Regions from separate parts of the Homo sapiens genome. Here region 2 is linked to region 1. A link means that fine-mapping ties the variant in region 1 to the expression of a gene that starts in the linked region. Tissue or cell type: whole blood. Region 1 holds a variant in brackets; the other region holds the start of a gene. All regions are shown on one strand. Distances are from middle to middle.

The links. PIP is the estimated chance that this variant, and not a neighbour inherited with it, causes the effect.
Region 2: it holds the start of EXOSC10, and the variant in region 1 is fine-mapped to the expression of EXOSC10 in whole blood (TOPMed, PIP 0.97).

Annotation. Positions count from the first base shown.
Region 1 is chr1:11,046,570-11,049,235 of GRCh38, reverse strand. It overlaps MASP2 (MBL associated serine protease 2), which reads left to right and starts at 1,997. Exons shown (of 11, transcript NM_006610.4): 1 at 1,997-2,033; 2 at 2,117-2,345; 3 at 2,503-2,666. The coding sequence starts at 2,029. RefSeq lists an enhancer at 2,660-2,666. The variant G/A (reference allele first, on the strand shown) is at 1,684.
Region 2 is chr1:11,098,645-11,101,325 of GRCh38, reverse strand. It overlaps EXOSC10 (exosome component 10), which reads left to right and starts at 1,457. Exons shown (of 25, transcript NM_001001998.3): 1 at 1,457-1,605. The coding sequence starts at 1,495. It overlaps EXOSC10-AS1 (EXOSC10 antisense RNA 1), which reads right to left and starts at 1,651. Exons shown (of 2, transcript NR_135062.1): 1 at 1,512-1,651. RefSeq lists enhancers at 1,168-1,728, 2,018-2,077, 1,729-2,291 and a silencer at 1,915-2,116.

The DNA of each region.
Region 1 (2,666 bases):
CAGGTAGCTGGGATTACAGGCACGCAACACCATGCCCAGCTAAGTTTTGTATTTTTAGTAGAGATGAGGTTTAACTCCAAAATAATTCTTTTTCCTGATCTTTTGCATGTGATTTACTATTTGATTTTTCTCTTTCTCTTTGTTTGTAAAACATAATTATTCTCTCCAGTGTTTTTAAATATGTGTAAAGCTGTATTAATATTTTTATCTCCTTTTCTGGGCACTTGGGGCACACTTTCGATCAGTATCACGTTCTTCAGTTCTGGGAAATTTTCTTGCATTATTATTATTGCTATGTATGTATTTTTTGAGACAAAATCTTACTCTGTCACCCAGGCTGGAGTTCAATGGCATGAACATGGCTCACTGCAACCTTGAGACCTCCTGGGCTCAAGCGATTGTCCCATCTCAGCCTGCCAAGTAGCTGGGACTAAAGGTGCATGCCACCATGCCTGGCTAATTTAAAAAAATTTTTTTTTTTTTTAGAGACAAGGTCTTGCTATGTTGCCCAAGCTGGTCTTGAACTCCCGGTCTCAGGCGACCCACCTGCCTCAGCCTCCCAGCCTCCTGGGATTATGGGCAGGAGTCACTACACCCAGCCAGAGTCCCGGTCTCTAAAAGAAAATAGGCCAGGCATGGTGGCTCACGCCTGTAATCCCAGCACTTTGGGAGGCTGAGGCGGGTGGATCACCTGTGGTTGGGAGTTCGAGACCAGCCTGACCAACATGGAGAAACTCCGTCTCTACTAAAAATACAAAACTAGCCGGACGTGGTGGCGCATGCCTGTAATCCCAGCTACTCGGGAGGCTGAGGCAGGAGAATTGCTCGAACCCCGGAGGCAGAGGTTTGGTGGCTCACACCTGTAATCCCAGCACTTTGCGAGGCTGAGGCAGGTGCATCGCTTTGGCTCAGGAGTTCAAGACCAGCCTGGGCAACACAGGGAGACCCCCATCTCTACAAAAAACAAAAACAAATATAAAGGGGATAAAAAAAAAAAAAAGACAAGACATGAATCCATGAGGACAGAGTGTGGAAGAGGAAGCAGCAGCCTCAAAGTTCTGGAAGCTGGAAGAACAGATAAACAGGTGTGAAATAACTGCCTGGAAAGCAACTTCTTTTTTTTTTTTTTTTTTTTTGAGGTGGAGTCTCACTCTGTCGTCCAGGCTGGAGTGCAGTGGTGCGATCTCGGATCACTGCAACCTCCGCCTCCCAGGCTCAAGCAATTCTCCTGCCTCAGCCTCCCGAGTAGCTGGGATTATAAGTGCGCGCTGCCACACCTGGATGATTTTTGTATTTTTAGTAGAGATGGGATTTCACCATGTTGGTCAGGCTGGTCTCAAACTCCCAACCTCGTGATCCACCCACCTTGGCCTCCCAAAGTGCTGGGATTACAGGTATAAGCCACCGAGCCCAGCCAAAAGCGACTTCTAAGCCTGCAAGGGAATCGGGAATTGGTGGCACCAGGTCCTTCTGACAGGGTTTAAGAAATTAGCCAGCCTGAGGCTGGGCACGGTGGCTCACACCTGTAATCCCAGCACTTTGGGAGGCTAAGGCAGGTGGATCACCTGAGGGCAGGAGTTCAAGACCAGCCTGACCAACATGGAGAAACCCCATCCCTACCAAAAATAAAAAATTAGCCAGGTGTGGTGGTGCTCGCCTGTAATCCCAGCTACTTGGGAGGCT[G/A]AGGTGGGAGGATTGCTTGAACACAGGAAGTAGAGGCTGCAGTGAGCTATGATTGCAGCACTGCACTGAAGCCGGGGCAACAGAACAAGATCCAAAAAAAAGGGAGGGGTGAGGGGCAGAGCCAGGATTTGTTTCCAGGCTGTTGTTACCTAGGTCCGACTCCTGGCTCCCAGAGCAGCCTGTCCTGCCTGCCTGGAACTCTGAGCAGGCTGGAGTCATGGAGTCGATTCCCAGAATCCCAGAGTCAGGGAGGCTGGGGGCAGGGGCAGGTCACTGGACAAACAGATCAAAGGTGAGACCAGCGTAGGGCTGCAGACCAGGCCAGGCCAGCTGGACGGGCACACCATGAGGTAGGTGGGCGCCCACAGCCTCCCTGCAGGGTGTGGGGTGGGAGCACAGGCCTGGGCCCTCACCGCCCCTGCCCTGCCCATAGGCTGCTGACCCTCCTGGGCCTTCTGTGTGGCTCGGTGGCCACCCCCTTGGGCCCGAAGTGGCCTGAACCTGTGTTCGGGCGCCTGGCATCCCCCGGCTTTCCAGGGGAGTATGCCAATGACCAGGAGCGGCGCTGGACCCTGACTGCACCCCCCGGCTACCGCCTGCGCCTCTACTTCACCCACTTCGACCTGGAGCTCTCCCACCTCTGCGAGTACGACTTCGTCAAGGTGCCGTCAGGACGGGAGGGCTGGGGTTTCTCAGGGTCGGGGGGTCCCCAAGGAGTAGCCAGGGTTCAGGGACACCTGGGAGCAGGGGCCAGGCTTGGCCAGGAGGGAGATCAGGCCTGGGTCTTGCCTTCACTCCCTGTGACACCTGACCCCACAGCTGAGCTCGGGGGCCAAGGTGCTGGCCACGCTGTGCGGGCAGGAGAGCACAGACACGGAGCGGGCCCCTGGCAAGGACACTTTCTACTCGCTGGGCTCCAGCCTGGACATTACCTTCCGCTCCGACTACTCCAACGAGAAGCCGTTCACGGGGTTCGAGGCCTT
Region 2 (2,681 bases), 52 kb before region 1:
AAAATACAAAAAAAAAAAAAAAATTAGCCGGGCATTGTGGCACACGCCTGTAATCCCAGCTACTTGAACCTAGGAAGCGGAGGTTGCAGTGAGCTGAGATTGCACCACTGCACTCCAGCCTGGGCAGCAGAGTGAGACTCTGTCTCAAAAAAAAAAAATAAACAGGGCAGGCACGGTGGCTCCGCCTGTAATCCCAGCACTCTGGGAGGTCGAGGCGGGAGGATCACAAGGTGAGGAGTTCGAGACCAGCCTGGCCAATATGGTGAAACCCCGTTTCTACTAAAAATACGAAAAAAATTAGCCGAGCGTGGTGGTGCACGCCTGTAATCCCAGCTACTCGGGAGGCTGAGGCAAGAGAATTCGTTGAACCCGGGAGGCGGGAGGTTGCAGTGAGCCAAGATTGCGTCACTGCACTCCAGCCTGGGCAACAGAGTGAGACTCCATCTCAAAAAAAATAAAAATAAAAATAGGCTGCACGCTGATGACTCGTATCTGTAATCCCAGCACTTTGGGAGAGCAAGAGTGAAACTTTGTCCCAAAAACATGGTTTTTTTTGTTTGTTTGTGACAAGGTCTCACTCTGTTGCCCAGGCTGGAATGCAGTGGTTCGATCTCGGCTCACTGTAACCTCCACCTCCCGGGCTCAAGCCTCAGCCTCCCGAGTAGCTGGGATTACAGGCATGTGCCACCACGCCCGACTAATTTTTGTGTTTTTAGTATAGACAGAGTTTCACCATGTTGGCCAGGCTGGTCTCCAACTCCCGACCTCAGGTGATCCACCCGCCTCGGCCTCCTAAAGTGCTGGGATTACAGGTGTGAGTCACGGCGCCCAGCCTCAAAAACATAACCTTAAAAAGAAATTTTTGAGACAGGGTTTCATCCTGTCACCCCGGCTGGAGTGCAGTGGAGCCTCCACCTCCTCGGCTCAAGCAACCATCCCACCTCAGCCTCCCGAGCAGCTGGGACTACAGATGCGCACCACCACTCCCGGTAATCCCGGTTTGTTTGTTTTTTAAATTTTTAAATAAACACGAGGATAAGCGGGGATCGTGGCCCTCGCCTGGGGTCCCTGCTACTTCGCAGGCTAAGGTGGGAGGATCTCTTGAGCCCAAGAGTTCGAAACCAGATTGGGCAAACCTCGTGTCAAAAATATATGTGATAGTCAGGTCCTCCAGGCCGCACCCTAGATCACAGGGTTGTTGGGATGATACAATATGAGGTAAAAGAACGTGAAATTCACACCAGAGCGCTCGAAAGTGCCACCCTAATCGCAGGCTTCCCAACCTAATCGCAGGCTTCCCAACCTAATCGCAGGTGCCCCACCCTAAACGCAGGCTTCCCAACCTAATCGCAGGCGCCCCACCCCAATCGCAGGCTCCCCACACTATAATCAGACGCCCCGCCCGCCGCTTCGACCTGGCGCATGCGTGGTGCGCACGCGTCCCGTCTCCTCGGCCGACAAGCTCTCGCGAGACGAGCCGTGCAGGCTGAAAAAATGGCGCCACCCAGTACCCGGGAGCCCAGGGTCCTGTCGGCGACCAGCGCAACCAAATCCGACGGAGAGATGGTGCTGCCAGGCTTCCCGGACGCCGACAGCTTTGTGAAGGTGAGTTCGCGGGGCCTCGGGGGTACCAGGAGTCGCCCGCGGCCGCCGGAAGCCGACTGGGCCCTCTGGGCAGCCAATGCCCGCCCGCCGTAGTGGAGCCCGAGCGAGGGTCGCGGGGCCCCTGTCCGCGCTGGGCGCAGACTCTCCTGCACCCTCCGGGGATGGGGCCTCGGAAACGGACACTGAGGGGCGTCCCGCTTGCGAGCCTAAGTCCATGGAGGCCCAAATGTGGAAAGCCGTCTCGCATCCTGGGAAAGGCTTCCTTGCCACCCAGACGTCCCTAGCCCTTGCGACGTCGCGCTCGCCACGCCCTAGCCACCCGACCAGCTCTCCGCAGGGGCTCGGCTTCTTCGCGCTCCCCACACTTGCCTGGAGTTGTCTCCTCCCGCGGCCAGTATGGCCCTTCTCTTCCTCTGTTTCTGAAGTCCAGTCCTACATAATTTTTAACCCTGAGTTAAATGTCACCTGTTAAAGCCCCATTGCACGTTTATTAGTAACTCCTGGAAGGTATACAGGGCGTTCACTTAAGATCTTTGTATAACTTAGCTTAAATATGAGCAAACGTACAACTAGGCTTAAGGTGTGCATAGCTCTTACAAAGCAATGAAACTAAAATAATTTGTAAATTAACCCTATAAATTTACAGAAATTCCACTAACGTTGTATCTTATCTAATTTGCTGTTAGCTAATGCTATTGATTCATTAACATGGCTCTCAATAGTTCCTGGACCACTAACTGTGGTCCTGGTTGTGTGGCGGTCATGCTCATAAGCTACCATGTTCCCCTCCGTGACTTAATTTCCCACCTCCTTTCTCTGCTTTTTTCTTGGGAAATGTTTATTCACAAAACTCACAATGACGTTTTAGGCCTTCACATGATCAGCCATCATTTATGTCACTTCACGGCTTTTTTTCGTTACCTCACAACAGTTAAAATAGAGAACCACTTGACACTAACTGAACAATAAACACAAATCCAGTTTTAGATAGTAGCTGTTATAAATTTGTCGTCCAAGGATCTAGGATAAGCTTGTATTGTTTTTAGATGCTCATCCAGATGAAAACACAAAAACAA